Linked DNA regions of Homo sapiens: regions 2, 3 and 4 are each linked to region 1. Evidence: fine-mapped expression QTL. A gene starts in region 1. Each other region holds a variant in brackets. All regions are shown on one strand. Distances are from middle to middle.

Region 1 (5,154 bases):
TCCATTCTAACAATTTCAACTGCCAACAACATATATTTTTTATCAGGCTTGTGGGCTCAGAAATTTTTTTATTAATAGCTTATTTTCACAGTATCCAATATGATACTATAGAATGCTGCCTCTATTTGTAAGATAAATAGATGTGGAAAACTACCCAAGATAGTTGTGGAAACACAAGATGCAGAAAACGAGATTTTTTTTTTTTCCCTAGTTTACCATGTTGTAAGTTTTCATGTTATTTAAAAATTTTTTACATGTTACTTTGTTGGGATTGGTAAGCCAAGAAATTTGGTTTGAATTATTTTATATATGATACTCGACTGGCATTTGGAAATATCTTGTTTTATTCAGGAAAGTTAAATGGCATTAATAGAGCAACTCTTAAGTAGTCAGTGTTTCAAAAGATATGCTGGTGCTTTTATTGTAATTCTTGAATCCTGTTCTGTCTGTGAATCAGAAGATAAACAAACGTTAATTATTTTTAAAAATTTTAATGTGATATTATCTAGTGAAAATTTCAATTATAATTCTACAATTGCATTGTAAATCACTTTTATACCCCAAGAGGTACAGGTACGAGTGATGAAATTATGGAGTTTGTAAATGTTTTACATTTGCTATACTTAAAATCCTACTATTTCACAGTGTTGGCTACTTTTCATATTCCAGTCCTTGGCCTCAGTAACTTAGAAACAGGTATGTATGAAGGAAAAATGAAGCAGAAAATAACAACAACAAAAAAAAGAATCAGATATGGGCCAACTTTAGAATGGTCTAATTGCTCAAACTTTAGAGTCTTTAACCTTTAGGCAAGGAGTTGAAATTAAAAATAGCCAAGGTACTTAAGGATGTCAGGATCTTGCAAGAAACCGCTGGAAGCACCAATATTTAAGTAACAGAGGAAAAGGGGAGAGCAAAAGAGACTGAAGATGAACTTTGGAGCTGGGAGGAATAAACCTAAAGAGTGATACTCAGAAAACGAGAGAGACCATTATGAAGGAAGGAGGGGATAGGTATCTTAAACATCAAAGTAAGGCAAAAATAAAGCGCAATGGCAACAAGGTCATTAGTGATTTTAGCAAGAATTACTTCATTTTTATCCACTCCTGCAGTCATAGTAAATGGCATACAGAAGGCCTCAATATTTATTTGCTGAAAGAATAAATCAGTAGGTTTCAGGGGACTGGGCTCACACCTGTAAACTCAGCATTTTGGGAGGCCAAGGTGGGAGGCTTGCTTAAGGCCAGGAGTTTGAGACCAGCTTGGGCAATATAGTGAGACCCCCATCTCTAAAAAAATTATAAAAATCAGCTGGGCGTGGTAGCAAGCGACTGTGATCCCAACTACTCCAGAAGCTTGGGCAGGAGGATCCCTTGAGCCCAGGAGGTTGAGGCTGCAGTGAGCCACGATCCTGCCACTGCACTCCAGCCTGGGTAACAGAGCTAGACCCCAACTCAACAAAACAAAACAATCAGTAGCTTTCTACCTTAGTTGTACACTACAATGACCCGAGGAGCTTTTAAGAATTAGCATGCCCAAGCCATACCCTAGACCAATTAAATCCAAACGTCTGGGCTCAGGATGCAGGCATCAGTGTTTTTATTAAAGCTCTTCAGGTGATTTCAATGTGCAGCTAAGCTTGGAATTACTGGAATAAGTAAATCCAAAGATTCCAAAGCACCTGGTACAATTGTTTGTTTAAATGGGTTCCTACCTTACCTATTAACTCCTTTTAGAATATGGATTGAGTCTTATGTTTGTAAACTCATGAGAGCATGCAGAGTAGAGGGGTCAAAACTTTCGCTGTATGAATGAATATTACTCACTCTTCTAAAATCTTCCACTGGGGGGAATAAAGCCAAGGAAGGAAAAACAATTCCTAATTCACAAGTAATGAATGAATCACCCCTATTCCCATCATGACTAAGATCTTACATACTAGGGAAAATCCTCTGAGACAAAGAGAGCATAATGCAGTGTAGCATAAGACTTGCTTACCTGAGGTGTTATGAGTATGAAATGCATTGAGTTATAAAATACTTAGAACAGCGATAAGCACAGGATAAGTAATAGCACCTTTTTGAAACAGAATGTAGAAAACCACGTAGCTCTGGAACTGGATAAAATTGGTTTCCTGGATACATACCTACTGTACAAAATGAAAAAGTCATCTTCCAGCTTCTTTTTGCGAAGAAGCTTAAGACTGTCTTGCATACTTGTGGTTGCCTGACCCTGTTAATTTATCAGTATTTATCTTAGAAGAAAGAAATCTAGGTCAAAAACGCGAACGTATTAGTAAAGAAGATACAATGGGAACCAACCTGATGCTCTTACAGCGTCAATACTGTTAGTTGAGATGTGGACCATCTATCAGTTTGTAATTAAGAAAAAGTCTGGCACGTGACTGAAACTGAGGAAGAAGTAGAAAAGGCAAAAGGTCAAAGGTCTCATGGGAAGGAAGGAGGGTAGAGACAGTGAGTTTTATTGGTCCTTTTATGGTTCAGACTTCCTTCTTCATCGACTCTCCCTAATTCTCTTCACTGTTCATCCCCAGCAACTTTTCTTCCCAAGCATTTCCTGCGGGCTTTTATTACCCCAGGAGTGCCAATCAAGGCGTGGAACAGATAAAGCTGTGTAGCAACTAACGCGTGACTCTTGTGAGTGTGGAGGGCAAACGAAGCTCCCTGAAACCTCCGCTCTGCTCTCCTGCCTTACGCCGCGCGGCCCCTGTTCTGAGGTTTAATACTTGCTTCACAGATAAGCGCTGCGGCCACGTTCCGGTGCCCACCTTCTCCTTGGCTAGGGCACGACGCCAGCCCAGGGGGCGCGGCCCTGAGCTGCTGCGAGAGACAGCTGAAAGCGCCGGCCCGACGGCCTTGGCTCCCTCGGTGCGCTGGGCGCAGAGCACTCGGACCCTGGGCGCCCACTGCTCGAGTACCTGCGCGGCTCCTAGCCAGGCTTAGCCCAGGCGCGGGCTGAGAGTCAGTTCGCCAGGTGGGCCTGGAGCCATGGGCTGGGTGGGCGGGCGGCGCCGGGATTCTGCGTCACCACCTGGGCGGAGCCGTTCTGCTGCTGACGACATCAACCCGGCACCTGCCAACATGGAAGGTGGCGGCGGCAGCGTCGCTGTAGCTGGCCTCGGAGCTCGAGGCTCTGGAGCGGCTGCAGCTACAGTCCGGGAACTTCTGCAGGACGGTAAGGAGACGGGGTCTGACCAGGTCGTGGGGTTGGGGGTCTGCGCTGCTCCGCACCTGGACAGCGAGGTGGACCCAACCCGTTGCTTTGCAGAAAGTTTTCCAGTCTGGACGTGACCACTCCCCTCCGCCCGGCCCCCTGGCTTGGGTACTGTTCTAGCCAACCTATTTACTCTGGGACTGGCTCCCTCTTTTCTGGAGTCTTGGGGACACTTGGTTTCTGTGTGTTCCTCATTTCAACTCGACCCCCCCCCCCCCCATGCCTCCAGCTTCCCTGAAGTTTCGGGAGCCCAAACCCTGTGGACCGCGTTGGCAGCCACCGGCTGCTGCCGCAGTTCTTGACGAAGGGGTGTAGCGTTCGAGCTCTTCAAAAGTGTAAGCTCTAGAACAGACGGCAGACGCATAATGAAATAGGGCCTTGTTTTAAAGTAGAGCTGGAAACGCTTACTCCTTTAACAAATGGACTGTACAGGTGACCCCTCTTACAGGCTGGTTTTTTTTTTCCTCCTTTATGAGGCAGTTATCTACAGTGACACGTGGGGGAGGGTTTGAGACATTTGTTCAGGTTGGGATTAACCATTTGTACAGAATCTAGCAGTCAGATTTTATTGCTAGTCAGTTTGGAGAGAAGTTGCCCAAAATAAGAAAAGTTAGATATAATATACTTGAAAAGCATATTCAGTTGTGTCAATCCAGTTACCATGTCCCGAATCTCTTATCCTTCAGAATAAAGTTCACATTTATAAGCATAAAAATAAAGCCCTTCTCACCTGTTCTTAATTTTTTCTCTAGTGGCCATCGCATTCTACCTTGTACTAAAATCATTTGTATACTTGTTTTAATCTCTTCTGTATTGCAAACTTTTTTTAATATCCCACAGTGTGAATAGCAGTATCTTGCATACAGTAGGTGCAGAATGTTTTTTAAATTCATCATCGCAGTTAGAAGCACATGCACACATTTGAAGACCGAAGTGGGTAATAAATGAAATAAAGTTCCAAATTATTGTTTATTTTCTCTGACTGTTAAATATTTTATTGTCATCCTGAATTACGTGCCTTTTCATGATAATTTATGTACTTTTGTCAAAAGCAATGATGTTTTCTGAACTATTTCATGTTGGAAACTCTAGGACCGGGTCTCTGTCTAAAACTTGGCTAAACTGAATTTAAACTTTAGATACAAGGCAGAGACCCTGATATATTTGCAGTTGCTCCTGATACACGTGCAATTTTTGCCCTCAAGTAGTTCACCATCTAGTAGAGGAAATAATCTTGTAGACTATAAAGGTAGGTGCTGTAATATAGTGATGTAAGATAGCAGTAGGATTGCATATAAAGTAGAGCATTAATACAGAGGAGAATGATAACTGGGGGTTGGAAACTGGTTAGGAAATGTCAGAAAAGGCTTTCTAGGTGGAGACGTTTTAAACTGTAGACAGGACTTCCCCAGGTGAACAGTGGAACATTGGATATATGTTTCAGTAGGATGTATTTCAGGAATTGTAATCAGTTCTTGGACGGTAAATACTCTTCAGTTCTGCCTTCTGTATTTTCCTCCTTGGTTCTCTGCCATTCTCCACAGTGATTGTTTAAATCTTCTTTACCCTTTTCAAACCTTTCGCTTCAAGCTCAACAAATGACTTTAAGCTTCCCTGGGGAGAAAAAGAGGATCCATCAGATGTGAACTTTCTCCATTTCTTGCCCATCAAACCTATGAATTTAACCTCAACGTATAACCATCTGTTGCACCTTTTTTCCCTTGCCTTTTCAATTGCAACGGAAGTGGAGCCTCTGCTCCTTTCTTTCTTTCTTTCTTTTTTTTTTTTGAGACGGAGTCTCGCGCTGTTGCCCAGGCTGGAGTGCAGTGGCGCAGTCTCGGCTCACTGCAAGCTCTGCCTCCGGGGTTCACGCCATTCTCCTGGCTCAGCCTCCTGAGAAGCTGGGACTACAAGCGCCCA
Region 2 (5,154 bases), 170 kb after region 1:
GTTCAAATGCATTGTGTTCAGTGAGCTCTATGGAAGTTAAGCATTATCTTAAGCTTCAAAAAGAAGGTCCTCTTAAAGTTGAACACAGTGATTCCTTTTGTAGTTTGCGATAGTAGTTCTGCAGGCAGCAAGCAATTGTTTTGGGATGTTTTCCTTCCCTTATGACCCAACAAACACCATTTGCCTAGCTTTAAAAGGTACAGCTTTTATATATTTAGCTGTTTTTCTGACTTGTCTCATGGATTATACAACAGAGCCCATCATTTGGGCCTGTGTAAACTCCTTTGTATATTTGGTCCCAGTATTGTTTTTACCACTAACTAGAGTTTCAGTAATTTTTCCCCTCTTGTTCAAAACTTGTTCCTTGGCACACAGTAAACAACTTGAAAGAATGAATGTAGTAAGAGCTCGCGTATTTCCTTTATGACCTTCAAATGATAATTTGCTGTTGTTTCACCATATATTTGTCTGTTTGTTCCCATCACTATAGCTTTCATTAGATTTAATGGAGACCTGATGTGGAGTACATTGGTATTCAATTAAATAAACTTTATGACATGTATAAATAATAATTTTAAAAGTTACTCTTCGGCAATTTCTTTTTAGAGATAACATTGTATATCATTATTAATAATAGTTACATAATATGTACCGTCATAGCTTTTATAATTTAAAAGGATATTTTAAAACTAATCATTTAAATTTTTTTTCTCTAAAGCTTAATGTTAGTTGTGTGACATGTCCTTTTTATTTTATCCTTAAATTTGAATGGAAATTAATTTGAACTCTTACATAACACCCAAAATCATGGGTTGGTAAACTACAGCCCGTGGCCTGTTTTTTTATGTTGCCGCAGTGCTAAGAATTATTTTTATATTTTTAAATGGTTGGAAAAAAGCAAAAACAAACAGCATACGTAGTGTGCAAAGCCTAAACTATTTGCTGTATTGCACTTTAAAGAAAAAATATGCTGATCCCTGCTTTAAATAATTGATTTTCTTGGCAGATACTTTCATCTTTTCTTTTCTCCTACTCTTTTTCTCTCTGTCTACCCTTTCCTCTTTTACGATGTGTCAATTACCATACGGCATTTCTGTATGCTTTTGTTTTACACCAAATGTAAAGTATGACTTTTATTCTAGTTTCTATATGCAGTCATGTTATTTTCATATTCTTTGACAAATTCTCTTGTTGTGAACAATCCACAATAACATTGGCTACTTTATTATTTTATTTTATTGCCATCTTGCAGTGTGGACTTACATCTAATTAACTGTCTGCTTTTAGACTTAGGGTATTTTGGTGTTATTACTTCCCATAGTTTTCCAGTTCACTGAATGCATTTCATTTCAGTTATTCATGTGAATAATTTTTCAATAACGGACTAAATTTATTGTATTTCATATAGAATTCTGTTACTGCTCTTTGATTAAAATTTGGTAGTCACTCTAGTCTATGTGTAATTGCTTTCTGCTTCTCAAAAATTTCTCAAAATTGTGTTTGTACTTGTATAAATCTATATGATTTTACTTAATTTAAACACTCTTGTGCTGGAGTGTTATTATAGTAGTAAATACTAGAATTTTATTTTGTAATTCAGAAAAATTACAGGCAGCAACTTTTTGTCTTTATAGATTAATTTGCATTTCCATGGTTTTACATAATTAGAGTTATACAGTGTGCTCTTCCTCTTATCTGGCTTTATACATTCAACATAATTATTTTGAGATTCATGCATGTTATGTGCATTGATAATTTGTTCCTCTTTTATTATGTCATTACTTATGGAAGTATCTTTATACGTTCACCTATTGATGAGCATTTAGGTTATTTCTACTTTAAGACTATTGTAAATAAAGCTGCATTAACACTCAAGTACAAGTCTTAGTTTCAGCTTATATTTTCATTTGTTAGGTTAATACCTAAGGCAAAAAAAAAAGGTTAGATTTTTGCAAAGACTATTATGTTTACTTTTTAAAGAGAATACCAGTTTTCTGAAGTGGTTCTATTAGTTTACATTTCCACATCCGTAGTTGAGGGTTCTGGTTCCTCCAGATTGTTGCCAACATTTGATGTTAGCAGTCTTTTTAATTTTAGCCATTTTAGTGGGTGTGTAGGAGGTTCTCGTACTTTTTATGTGCATTTTCTTAATAACTACTGATGTGACAAACTTTTTAACTGCTTAATAGTGAAGGTTTTTGTTCAATTTTTGAAGGGTTTGTTGTCTTCTCATTACTGAGTTGTAAGAATTTTTATTACATTCTGGATGTAAGTCTTCTATCAAATTTTGCATTGTAAATTGAATTAGTCGGTTTTCACACTGCTATAAAGACGTACCCACGACTGGGTAATTTATAAAGAAA[A/G]GAGGTTTAATTGACTCATATTTCCGCAGAACTGGGGAGGCCTCAGGAAACGTATAATCATGGCAGAAGGGGATGAGGCATGTCTTACATGGTGGCAGGCAAGAGAGAGGAGTGTGTGTGGAGCTAAGGGGAAAGAGCCCATTATAAAACCATCAAGTCTGGTGAAAACTCACTCACTATCATGAGAACAGCAAGTGGGAAAACCACCCCCATGATCCAATCACCTCCCACCAGGTTCCTCCCTCTACACATGGGGAGTATGAGGATTACAATTCAAGATGAGATTTGGGTGGGGTCACTGCCAAACCATATCATAAATATTTTCTTCTGTGTCTTTCCTTTTTTTCTGTTATCATGCACTTTTAATGTATAGTTTGATGAGTTTTAGTAAACTTATTTATTTATTTTAACTTTTTTTTTCAGACAGAGTCTCGCTCTGTCACCCAGGTTGGAATGCAGTGGCACGATCTCGACTCACTGCAACCTCCATCTCCTGGAATCAAGCAATTTTCCTGCCTCAGACTTCCGAGTAGCTGGGGCTACAGGCACATGCCACCACACCTAGCTAATTTTTATATTTTTAGTAGAGACGTGGTTTTACTATGTTGGCAGGGTTGGTCTTGAACTCCTGACCTCAGGTGATCTCCCTGCTTCGGCCTCCCAAAGTGCTGGGATTACAGGTGTGAGCCACCTTGCCCAGCCAAGTTTTAGTAAATTTATACAGATGTGCAACCATCTCATAACCAGTTTTGGAATATTGCCATCATCATACAAAAGTTCCTTCATGCTTGTTTGTAGTCAGTTCCTCCTCCTACCCCCAAACCCAGGCAATTACTAATTTTGATAGATTATAATTTCTGTCTTCTTAGTTTTTTTCTGAAAATTTTATATAAATACAGTCATATGACAGGTAATCTTGTGTATCTAGCTTCTTCACTTAGCACAATCTTTTATTTAGAATGATCCATTTTGTTGTATGCAGTGATCCCCAGCCTTTTTGACACCAGGGACTGGTTTCATGGAAGACAGTTTTTCCACACATGTGGGGGCAGAGGTGGTGGTTTTGGGATGAACTGTTCGCCTCAGATCATCAGCATTAGATTCTCATAAGGAGCACACAACCTATGTCCCTCGCGTGTGCAGTTAGCAATAGGGTTCGCACTCCTATGAGAATCGAACGCTGCTGCTGATCTGACAGGAGGCAGAGCTCAGGTTATAATGCTCACTGCCCTGCCGCTCACCTCCTGCTGTGTGGCCCAGTTCCTAACAGCCACCGACTCTTACTGGTCAGCAGCCCAGGGGCGTTGGGAACTCCTGATTGTATGTATAAATAGTCCATTGTTTTTCATTGATGAATAATATTCAGTTCTATGGATATATACATTTTGCTTGTGTCTTGATAAGTTGGTAGACTGCTTTTGTTTATTATGAATAATGCTGTCTTTTCCTCCCTTGATATTGTCTTTTTGAAAAGCAAAATTTTTTGTTTTGATAAAGTCTAGTTTATCCATGTTTTCTTTTGTATATTATGAAAGAAATTTTTGCCTACCTAAGGTTACAAAGTTTTTGTCTCATGTTTTCTTTTAGAGGTTTTAGAATTTTACATTTTAATTTTTATGTACAGTGCAAAATTATTTTTTTTCCATAGAGAAAGTCAGTTTTTTGAGCACCTTTTGTTGAAAAAGACCTTTTTTTTTCTTTCATTTAATCCTTCATTGTAATTTGTGGATACCTTTGCGTTTTGAGGTTATTTAATTTCCTGTCAGTCTTTCCCATAATGGTTTTAATATCAACGATTTCTGCCTAAATCTTTTTCTTAAATTACTTAGGGATTATGAAAGTGTGATTTTCTATTTTTGTTATTCCTTGTGTTTACTAGCTGCGATTATTTTGTAAAGAACTTTAACTCATCAACTGTGCATATTTGGTTACCCTGAACTGCAGTTTCTTTTGAAAATGATATATAAATACTTAGAAATTTCACTGTCATTACCACTTTATAGAGTAATGAGTTGATACAGTAGTCACCACCAAAGGTAGCAGATGAGATGTGATTTTATTCTTTTGTTTTTCATCTGTTAAAAATTATTGTTATGGGCCCATGTATTTTTTTATATATTGTCTTTCAATCAATGATGGTGCTGGATGAGGCTGTATGAACTGTTAACAGCAAGCTAGATTAATAGTGGCTTACACCAACAGATTTGACTGGGTGTAGGTGGTGCTAACATTGTTTCAACTATTCAACAAGGATTCAGGCCTTTCTTTTTTCCATTCCATCATCCTTAGTGTGCTTTTGCTTGTCCCATCATGGTCACAAGATAGCTGTCATGCCGGTAGCCATTATGTCTGTGTTCAAGGTACAGAGGTGGGGCAGAGCCAGTTGTGAGTCAAAAGGTGTTGTTATAATATCCTTCCCCAAATTGCCTAAGCCAACATGTCCTTATGTCTCACTGGCCAGATTTGAGTCACATGCCCAGCCTAGCTATCAAGAAGACTGTGAAAACAAGTGTCTGGCAAAGAGGAACAGAATTGTCAACATCGGCTCAGGCTACTTATCAGCCATTGCCTGAGAAAATTAGGTTTTTATCAAGAAAAAAGAAGAAAGTAGTTTTGGGCAATAGCTAATACATAATGCTTGCCATAAATATCTTTGGTAAAGCACAGAATGACTTTACATTTTATTATATTTAAAAATAAGCTATGTTTTTATGGCTTGCCACATTAATTTGTCATTATTCCATTTTCCTATAAAATTCATTTTATTGTTGAATAAACATTTTCAATAGTT
Region 3 (5,154 bases), 130 kb after region 1:
TCTATGTTGTATAGCATGCGTCAAATTTTCCTTCCTTTTAAAGGCTGAATAATTCGCTGTATGTATATACCACATTTTGCTTATTCATCTGTCCATGGACATTTAAGTTGCTTCAGTGTCTTGGCTACTGTGAATAACCAACCTGTCTTCATCCTTCCCTCTCCCCATCCTTCCCAACTTCTGTCTGGTTATCACCAGTCTATTCTCTACCTCTATGAGATCCACTTAATTAGCTCCCACATATGAGTGAGAACATGTGGTATTTCTCTTTCTGTGCATATTTCACTTAATATCATATCCTCCAAGTTCATCCATGTTGCCACGAATGATGTGATTTCATTCTTTTTTATGGCAGAATAGTATTCCATTGTGTATGTATACCACATTTTCTTTATCCTTCATTCATCAATGTACATTTGAATTGCTTCCACCTCATGGCTATTGTGAATATTGCTGCTATGAATATGGGCTTACAAATACCTATTCAAATCCCTGTTAAATATCTTTTGGTATATATAGAAGTAGAATTGGTGGACCATATGGTAATTCTATGTTTAGTCTTTTGAGAAACAACCATACCATTTTCCACAGAAACTGCATCATTTTACATGTCTGCCAGTGATATATGAGGATTTCAGTTTTTCTTTTTTCTTTTTTTTTCTGGGACAAAGTGTCTGTCGCCCAGGCTGGAGTACAGTGGCACGATCTTGGCTCACTGCAACCCTTGCCTCCTGGGTTCAAGCAATTCTCGTGCCTCAGCCTCCCAAATAGCTAGGATTGCAGGTGCCTGCCACCACACCCAGCTAATTTTTGTATTTTTAGTAGAAACGAGGTTTCACCATGTTGGTCAGGCTGGTCTCAAATTCCTGACCTCAAGTGATCCACCTACCTTGGCCTCCCAAAGTGCTGGGATTACAGGTGTGAGCCACCGCGCCTGGCCAGATTTCAGTTTTTCTATATACTCCTCAACAATTGTTATCTTCTGTTTTTCTTTTTTAATTGTGGAAAAAACAAATACCATGTAATTTCCCATCTTAGTCATTTTTAACTGCACAGTTTAGTACTATGTTTATATTGTTGTAGAACAGATTCCCAGAATTTTTTCCCCTTGTAAAATGGAAATTCTATACCTATTTAACAGCTCTTAATTTTCCTCTCCCCCACCTGCTGGCAACCACCATTCTACTTTCTGTTTCTATGAGTTTGACTACTTTAGATAACCCATAAAAGTAGAATCAGACAGTGTTTGTCTATTTGTGACTGACTTATTTCATTTTGCATAATGTCCTCATAATCTGTGTTGCAATATGTGACAGGATTTTGTTCTTTTTTTTTTTTTTTAAGACGGAGTCTCGCTCTGTCGTCCAGGTTGGAGTGCAGTGGCATGATCTCAGCTCACTGCAATCTCCGCCTCCCAGGTTCAAGCGATTCTCCTCCCTCAGCCTACCAAGTAGCTGGGACTACAGGCATTTGCCACCACATCCAACTAATTTTTTGTATTTTTAGTAGAGACAGGGTTTCACTGTGTTAGCCAGGATGGTCTTGATCTCCTGACCTAGTGATCCGCCCACCTTGGCCTCCCAAAGTGCTGGGATTACAGGCGTGAGCCACCGCGCCCAGCCAATTTTGTTCATTTTTAAGGCTAATATCCTATTGGGTTTATAATGCCACATTTTCTTTTTCTTTTTATCTTTTTTTAAAATTTTATCTCTTAATTTATTTTTTATTTCAATAGGTTTTTGGGAGCAGGTGATGTTTGCTTACACAAATAAGTTCTTCAGTGGTGATTTCTGAGATTTTGGTGCACTCATCGTCCAAGCAGTGTACACACTGTACCCAGTGTATATACCACATTTTCTTTATGCATTTATCTCTGCCAGTGGACTTTTGGGTTGCTTTTTACCTCTTGGCTATTTTGAATAATAGCTGCAGTGAACATGGATATGCAGATATTCCTTTAAGATCTTGTTTTCCATTTTTTTGGGTGTATGCCCCAAAATGGGATTATTGTATCATATGGTGATTCTAATTTTAAGTTTTTTCCAGGAAGGTCTATATGGTTTTCCGTAACAGCTGCACCATTTTGCATTTCTAGACACAATGCACAAAGGTTCCAATTTTTCTACATCCTTGCCAACAGTTGTTATTTTCTGTTTTGTGTATTTTTTTAATAGTGGCCATTCTAACTGGTGTGAGGTGATATCTCATTGTGATTTTGATTTGCATTTGTCCAATGATTA[C/G]TGATGTTGAACATCTTTTCATGTGCTTGTTGGCCACCTGTCTCTCATCTTTAGAGAAATGTCTATTTATATTCTTTGCCCATTTAAAAATCAGGTTATTTGCTTTTTTGTTTCTTAATTGTAGGATTTCTTTATATATTCTAACCCTTTATTAGAAATATTATTTGCAAATATTTTCTCCCATTCTGTAGGTTGCCTTTTCACTCTGTGAATTGTGGTATTTACATGGAAATTTTACGTTTTGATGTAGTTCAGTTTATTTTTAACTTTTTTTGCCTGTGATTTGGTGTCAATATGTGAGAAATTGCCAGATTCAATGCCATGAAATTTTTCCTTTATGCTTCTTCTAAGAGTTTTATAGCTTTAGCTCTTATGTTTAGGTCTTTGATCCATTTTGAGTTAAATTTTGCGTATAGCTAAGGTAATGGTACCATTTTATTGTTTGGCATATGGATATCCAGTTTTCCCACCACCATTTGTTGAAAACACTGTCCTTTTCCTGTTGAATTGTGTTGGCACCATTGTCAAAAATCATTTGACCTTACACGTAAAGGTTTATATCTGGGCTCTCTATTCCACTGATCTGTATGTCTGTCTTTATGCCAGTACCAGACAATTTTTATTATTGTAGCTTTGTAATATGTTTTGAAGCCAGCAGGTGTGAAACTTGCATCTTTTGTTTTGGCTGTTTGGGGTCCCTTGAGATTCCATATGAATTTTAGGATGCGTTTTTCTGTTTCTGCATGCACACACAAAATGCTGTTGGGATTTCAATAGGGATTGCATTAAATCTGTAGATCAATTTGGGTAGTATTGACATCTTAACAATATTAAGCCTTTCAATTCAAAATCATGGGATATCTTCCATTTATTTGTGTTGTCTTTAATTTCTTTCAGCCATACTTTGTAGTGTTCAGAATACATGTCTTTTGCCTCTTTATTTTCTCTAAGTTTATTCTTAAGTGTCTTACTCTTTTTGATGCTAAAATTGTAAATGGGATTATTTTCTTAATTTCCTCTTTGGATTGTTCACTGTTAGTGTACTGAAATGCAACTGATTGTTGTGTGTTGATTTTGTATCCTACAACTTCGCTAAATTCGTTTATTTTTACAGTTTTTTTTTGGTGTGGAATCTATAAGGTTTGCTATATCTAAGATTATGTCATCTGTGAACAGAGATAATTTTACTTCTTCCTTTCCAATTTGGATGCCTTTTATTTCTTTTCTTGCCTAATTGTTCTGGCTAGGACTTCCAGTACTATGATGAATAGAAAAAAATAGAAAATTTTTTGTAGAATTTTTTTTGCGAAAATGGATGCATCCCTGGACTTTTTATAGTACATGGTAGAATATATGTACTATAAATAGAATATGACTTCAGAAATCCCCATTTTTCTTCCTAGTTAGAATTTTTTAAGTAGAAAAGACTTTATTTTCATGTAGAGGCAGCTTTTCTTATAAGGCCAGTTTGATATTAATGGTAATTTTTGGTTAAGTGATATTCTTACACTGAAACGATTGCATTTGAGTTTTTAAGCATTATGGTATTTTCCTGTGGTCTGTACTTATGTCATGTTCTTATTTCAGTATCCTAAGTTCATGTCCTCAGAGGATTAGGTGGTACTATCCTGTTAACTTCCACTCCCTCTCTTTTGTATATCAATTACTCTTGAATTGCCAAAATATTTTGCAGCCTGGCATATTTTATCAGTTTGAATTTTATTTTAACCCAGCAATGTTTTGTCTGACCTCTCTGTGTTTACTTTTTCAACTTTAGTTTACTACAGAGCAGTTATTTTTATAGAACATTATGGTCTTTTCACTTGGTCATTATTGTCATACTCTTTTTGATTATTCTTTTTGTACTTAAGATTTAATGCTTATGCCAAAGCATTCAAACACATGAGATAGGATATGGTCAAAATAAGAATGGCAAAATGATGGTAATTGTTGAAACTCAGTAATGGGTACAAAGGATCATTCTCTCTTCTTTCATGATATTTTTACAATAAAATGTTCATGCACACACACACAAACACACACACACACTTCCTGTTTAAAATAGCAGTTCTTTAGGCTCTGTATTTGCAGTCTGACCTTTATTTAAAAGTCATTGTTGATTGGGCAGGTTCGTACCTTTAATCTTAGCACTTTGGGAGGCTGAGGGCAGGCAGATTGTTTGAACTCAGGAGTTCTAGACCAGCCTAGGCAACAAAGTGAGACATTGTCTCTACAAAAAATAAAAAAATTAGCTAGGTGTGGTGGTGCATGCCTGTGGTCCCAGCTACGTTGGAGGCTGAGGTGAGAGGAAGTTGAGCCTCAGTATCCTGAGGCTTGAGCTTGGGAAGTTGAGACCACAGTGAGCTATGTTTGTGCCATTGCAATCCAGCCTGGGTGACAGAACGAGACCCTGTCTAAAAAAATTAAAAAGAAAATCAATGTGGCAAATAGGATTTTTCTAGTAAATAATAAAATCTAATAGTAAGATGATAGAGTTTGATGATGCCCCAAATAAAAAATAGATTATCTTTCATATATTCTCTATACTTCAGTGATTTTCCCCATCTTTTTATTTTAAAAAGTTTTAAATTAGAGAAAAGTTGAAAGAATAGTAAAATAAACACCCCTTACCCATAACCTAGATTTGCCAGTTGTAAAACCTTTGCCATGTTTGTGTTATCTCCCTCTATAGATATCTTTACTGATTTTTTGTCTGCCTGTTTTATCAATTATTTATAAAAGGATATAAAACTATTTGACATAATTGTAGATTTTCAAATTTCATTCTTTTTTATTTTTGCTACATTTATATCAAACTCTGTTGTTATGTGCAAACACACTTAGGATGTATTGGGTGTATTAGTTCATTAGGGATGCTGTAACAAATTACCACAAATTTGATGGCTTAAAACAA
Region 4 (5,154 bases), 120 kb after region 1:
GAATCTTTTCAGGAATATTTTAGTTGAGGATATTGTATCTTGAGGAATTATGCTATTCTCTCTTACTTAAACCTTTAGAAATGTGTATGGTTTTAAGTAAAAATTTAACAAAGACCTAGGAAGAGTGTGTTTTTGTAACTCCACTAATATTTATTAGCTACATTTCTACAACATTTTTTTTTGAGACAGGGTCTTGCTGTGTTGCCCAGGCTGGAGTGCAGTGGCCTAATCACGGCTCACTGCAGCTTCGAGCTCCTGGGCTCAGGAACTCCTGGGCTCCTGGAAGCTCCTGAGATACTCCTATCTCAGCTTTCCAAGTTGCTGGGACTACCAGTGCCTGTCACCACTGGTATTTTTTGTAGAGACAGGGTTTTGCTATGTTGCCCAGGGTGGTCTCAAACTCCTGGGTTCAAACAGTTCCCCCGCCTTGGCCTCCCAAAGTGCTAGGATTACAGGCATGAGCCACTACGCTTGCCCTACATTTCTGCTTATTAGTTTCAGTTATAAGAAATTATGAGGGTATGTGTGTCACAATCCAAAAAGAAGTACTCTTTAAGACTGATGCTTTTTTAAATTGTATTTTTGGTCATCCAAAAGAGTTGTGTTACTCAACTTCAATTCAATTTTGATGTGTTTCTTATGTGAAAATCGCTATTCTTTTATTACAGGAGAGGCATAGTCCTTGCTCTTTAGAGTTTATGATATAGTATTTGATGATTTGGGATATGTAAAACTAAGAGAAGTATAAACATAACTTTAATATGATCAGTATTCAAAAAGATATTAACAATGTGCTATGAAGTTTCAAAATAAACCATATTGTTTGAAGAATTAGAACAAGTTTCATTAAATAAAGTAGGGGGTGAAAGAACAGGTATAATTCTGAAAAGCAGGGTTGGAGTGGCGAAAACAGTGTAAGAAAACTGCAGGTATCTTTCAGCTTATAAAATCCTGAACCATTTGGCCTGTGCAACTTTTCATGGCTAACTTTTTACTTTTAATTATTGCTCTGAGCGATGATAAGATGGACTTGAATAATTTAAACTCTGTAAAAATAATACTGAATAATTTAGACTCTATTGTAAAAATAAATTATATGATTAATTTGCTGTTCTATCCTGCAACCAGCCAGTTTACTGAGGATAGGAGATTGTGGTAGTATTAGCTAGACTAGAGGATAATATAGAATATAGAGACTTATAGAACTGAGAGGGACATAGAGAGACCAGTTAATTCATCATCCCCGTTTTGAAGATTAAGAAACAACAGAGAGATAAGTGCCCAGTTTTCTACACATATTTACTCTGATGGAACTGTTCCTGTGTAAGTCTATGTCTTTCAACTGTCAGTCCATTAGGATTATTTGAGGTAGGCGTCTAATTCATTTTTGTTAAGGTAACTGAATCTGAAATATTTAATTTGTGCAGAATCTGTAGATTCCTACAAACAAATCAGTCCAGTGCTTTCCCTGCTTTCTGTGTCTCTTACTAGAGATCTCATTTATAGCTCACCTAGAAGACGGTAGAGAATATATGAAATATATAATATCAATTTGGCTGTAGGAGAGACTGTGAGTGGAATGGATAGGAACATAAGTATGCCAGTTGGCATAAGTCCTTCATGGCACAGAAACATGAGGAAAAATTCTAAACTATGTTGATAGAGGAAGAGATTGAGTCCACCATAAATTAAGACTAGGATTTTAACAAAAAAAATATTTCTGGGCTGTCAGCAAAGTCATTTACATTTTTAGTTTTTATTAGCAGCATAATTTAAAGTCTCTCCTCTATCATAATACTTCATTACATTAGAGATATTATTTTGGCCTGAGGTATTTTTTGACAGCTTTATTAAGATATAATTAACATATCATGTAATTCACCCATTATAACTTGTGCAATTCAATGGCTTTTAGTATATCCAGAGAGTTGTGCAATTGTAGCCATAAACTAATTTTAGTAGATTTTTATTATTCCCCGAAACCACTTCATACCTATTAACAGTCACTCTCCTTTCCTCCCCAAACCATGCAGTCCTAGGCAACTAATATTCTAGAACAAATATTCTGTTTCACAGGTTTGACTATTGTGGATATTTCATATAAATGGGATAATATAATATATGATCTTTTATGCCGGGCTCTTTCACTTAGTATATATTTTCAGGGTTCTTTCACATTGTAGCATGTGTCAGTTCTTCATTCTTTGTAATTGCCAGATAATATACCATGTATGGATATACCACCTTTTGTTTTTCTTTTCATCAGCTGACAGACATTTGGGTTCTGCAAATATTTTCTCTTTTTCTGTGAATTGTCTTTTCTGAAGTAATTTTATTTTAGTTTAAAGGTAATACAATTTGAGAGATATAACATCCTATTTTCATGGACCTGCAGCAAGGGAAAACCCTTGATGTTGCATCTTTTAAACATTATTATAGACTCCTCTCAAGCTTGGAAAGAGATTAGGATGTATAAATTAAGGAACTGGAGAGTTATACTGCTAGGTCAGCTATTTTATTACAGTAGATTCCAGACTGTATCTCTAAATTTTGTTCTTTCTTTCTGGTGTTTCTTTTTCCAGCTTTTAAAATCTTGTATTTGTATTCTCTGAAACACATCTATTATAGCGTATTATTGGGTCTGCCATCTACCCAAAGAGTCTGCAACCCTAAATTATCTCTCTTGGTGACAGATTACATGCTACAAGTTTCTCGTATAGACTTTTTTTTTTTTTTTT[TA/A]GGTGAAATTGATTTAAACCTCAGATGAGACTGTATTTCCAGAAGGTAACATGTAGCCAGAGGCATATATGTGAAAGTAGGGAGGGAACATGGTTGACATACTGTTGGGCTGATGTTTACCTTTAGTGCATAAGTATTTAAAAAAAAAAAACAACAAAAAACCTGTGGGTTACTCCTGACACATACAGCCATATCAAGCTTTCTCTTTTGTCAAGGCCAGATGTATTAGTCTGTTCTCACATTACTATTAATATAAAGAACTCCCTGAGAATGGGTAATTGATAAGGAGATTTAATTAGCTCCTGGTTCTGCAGGCTGTACATTCTTCTGCTTCTAGGGAAGCCTCAGGAGACTTATAATCATGGTGGAAGGCAAAGGGGAAGCAAGCATGTCTTACATGGCTGGCAAAAGGAAGAGAGCAAGCCCAAGGGGAAAGTGCTGCACACTTTTAAACAGCCAAATCTCTTGAGAACTCACTGACTATCACAAGAACAGGGGGGGATGTCTGCCAACATGATCCAGCCACCTCCCACCAGGCCCCTCCTCCAACATTGAAGATGACAATTCAATATGAGATTTGGGTGGGGCCACAGAGCCAAACCACATCACCAGATGCTTGGTTCTTGAAATTGTGTAAGATTTCTTTCCTTACCTTTTAGATAACATATTTGCTCAGTTCATGGATCATAGTTTGGGCTAGAAGGAAAAGAGCATTGCTAAACTAATGCATACCAATAGGTTTATTATTTTGAAGAATATTTCTATTTTAAAATGTGACTTATTAAATAAATCCCTGATTGATAGAATTTAAACTCTTTTAGTGAAGTGAATAACTTTGAGCAGTGGAGGAGATTTTTGAGCATTAGTCATTAAAATTTAGCACATATGGTCTAAGTAAATGCCAGAAGAGATACAAGTAATGTGCTGTGAAAATTCAGAAGATGGATAAGTTATTTACAATTTGGAAGGTTAGAAAATATGTTATGTGGAGCTGGCACTTGAACTGAGTTTTGAAAGATAAGATTTTATTGGGCTATTTGGAGATTGGGAAGGTGCATACACTTGGAGTCAGGGGAATAATCTTCTAGTTTGACTAAAATGTAAGCTCTGGATTACAGGTCAAACATTGGATTGAATGCACACCTTTATTTCTGCTCTCTCCTTTATGTTCACTAAAATGACAGTGAAGGGCTAAAAAGGCATAAACGACAAAAACAAAGAATGGAGACAAGTTAAGGACTCAATCCCCTAAGATTGTTCCCACTGCAGATGGCAGTTATAAGTCCCAGGTTATCAGTAGTATTTCTCATCTACCTGCTGTAGATTAAGGGGTTTCCCACAACTCCCTCCTCAGGATTGGTAATTCTTTTTTTTTTTTTTTTTTTTTTGAGACGGAGTCTCACTCTGTTGCCCAGGTTGGAGTGCAGTGGCGCGATCTCGGCTCACTGCAACCTTTGCCCCCCTGGGTTCAAGCCATTCTCCTGCCTCAGCCTCCTGAGTAGCTGGGATTACAGGCTCCCGCCACCATGCCCGGCTAATTTTTTTTGTATTTTTAGTAGAGACGGGGTTTCACTGTGTTAGACAGGATGGTCTCGATCTCCTGACCTCATGATCCACCCACCTCAGCCTCCCAAAGTGCTGGGATTACAGGCATGAGCCACCACGCCCGGCCTGGGATTGATAATTCTTTAGAACAACTCACAGAGCTCAGAAAAGTGCTTAACTTATTATTACTGTTTGTTGTTGTTGTTTTAAAATAAAGGATACAACTCAGGAACAGCCAAATAGAAAAGATATATAGAGCATAGTATGGGGGAAGGGGCACAAAACTTCACTTCCCTCTCCCATGGGTTGACCTCTCAGCACCTTGATGTATTCATCAACTCAGAATTTCTCTGAACCCTGTGGTTAGGGGTTTTTATGGAGGTTCCATTACATAACGATGATTGATTAAATCATTAGCCATTGGTGATTGACTCAGTTTTCAGCCTCTTTTCCCTCCCCAGAAGTTGGTGTGGGGTGGGATTGAAAATTCCAATCCTCTAATCATGCATTGATCTTTCTGGTGACCAGCCTTCATCCTGAAGCTGTCTAGTGGCCACCATCATTCTATTAGCATGCAAAAGACCGTCTTATTAGTCCAGAGATTCCAAGGATTTTAGGGGCTGTGCCAGGAACCTGATACAATATTTGGGACAAAGATGAAATATTTATTTTTCATTATATTACAACATCCCTCTCAGCTTTTTTTTTTTAACCAAGAAAAACAACCAAAACTAAACTATCCTATAGCTGCTGAAAGTTGTAGTTATTTTACTGATTTCTGCTGAGGTGTTGAGAATTAAGACCAGAATAAACTTATGGTAATTAATTCATTCAAACAAATACATACTGAAGTTCTCCTATGTCCTAGAT

Alleles and levels. Positions count from the first base shown, and alleles are read on the strand shown. Sizes are in standard deviations (SD) of each study's normalised expression. Not every link is listed here.
As copies of A replace G in region 2, the expression in left ventricle of the gene that starts at base 3,078 in region 1 goes down (large effect, 1.0 SD a copy in GTEx).
For the expression in lymphoblastoid cells of the gene that starts at base 3,078 in region 1, A is the high allele of the variant in region 4 and TA is the other (small effect, 0.31 SD a copy in TwinsUK).

Evidence for each region.
Region 2: its variant is fine-mapped to the expression of COG5 in left ventricle (GTEx, PIP 0.92).
Region 3: its variant is fine-mapped to the expression of COG5 in Th17 cells (Schmiedel 2018, PIP 0.95).
Region 4: its variant is fine-mapped to the expression of COG5 in lymphoblastoid cells (TwinsUK, PIP 0.92).

What each region holds. Positions count from the first base shown.
Region 1 is chr7:107,561,844-107,566,997 of GRCh38, reverse strand. COG5 (component of oligomeric golgi complex 5) reads left to right here and starts at 3,078. Exons shown (of 22, transcript NM_006348.5): 1 at 3,078-3,195. The coding sequence starts at 3,102. It overlaps DUS4L-BCAP29 (DUS4L-BCAP29 readthrough), which reads right to left and starts at 3,027. Exons shown (of 13, transcript NR_163941.2): 1 at 2,789-3,027; 2 at 2,322-2,410. It overlaps DUS4L (dihydrouridine synthase 4 like), which reads right to left and starts at 3,027. Exons shown (of 8, transcript NM_181581.3): 1 at 2,789-3,027; 2 at 2,322-2,410. RefSeq lists enhancers at 1,301-2,500, 3,031-3,150 and silencers at 2,851-2,950, 2,989-3,199.
Region 2 is chr7:107,396,831-107,401,984 of GRCh38, reverse strand. All of the region lies in intron 7 of COG5 (component of oligomeric golgi complex 5), which reads left to right. Among named protein-coding and RNA genes, the nearest start is that of GPR22, 71 kb to the left of the region's middle. The variant A/G (reference allele first, on the strand shown) is at 2,364.
Region 3 is chr7:107,431,157-107,436,310 of GRCh38, reverse strand. All of the region lies in intron 6 of COG5 (component of oligomeric golgi complex 5), which reads left to right. Among named protein-coding and RNA genes, the nearest start is that of GPR22, 36 kb to the left of the region's middle. The variant C/G (reference allele first, on the strand shown) is at 2,241.
Region 4 is chr7:107,440,229-107,445,382 of GRCh38, reverse strand. All of the region lies in intron 6 of COG5 (component of oligomeric golgi complex 5), which reads left to right. Among named protein-coding and RNA genes, the nearest start is that of GPR22, 27 kb to the left of the region's middle. The variant TA/A (reference allele first, on the strand shown) is at 2,739.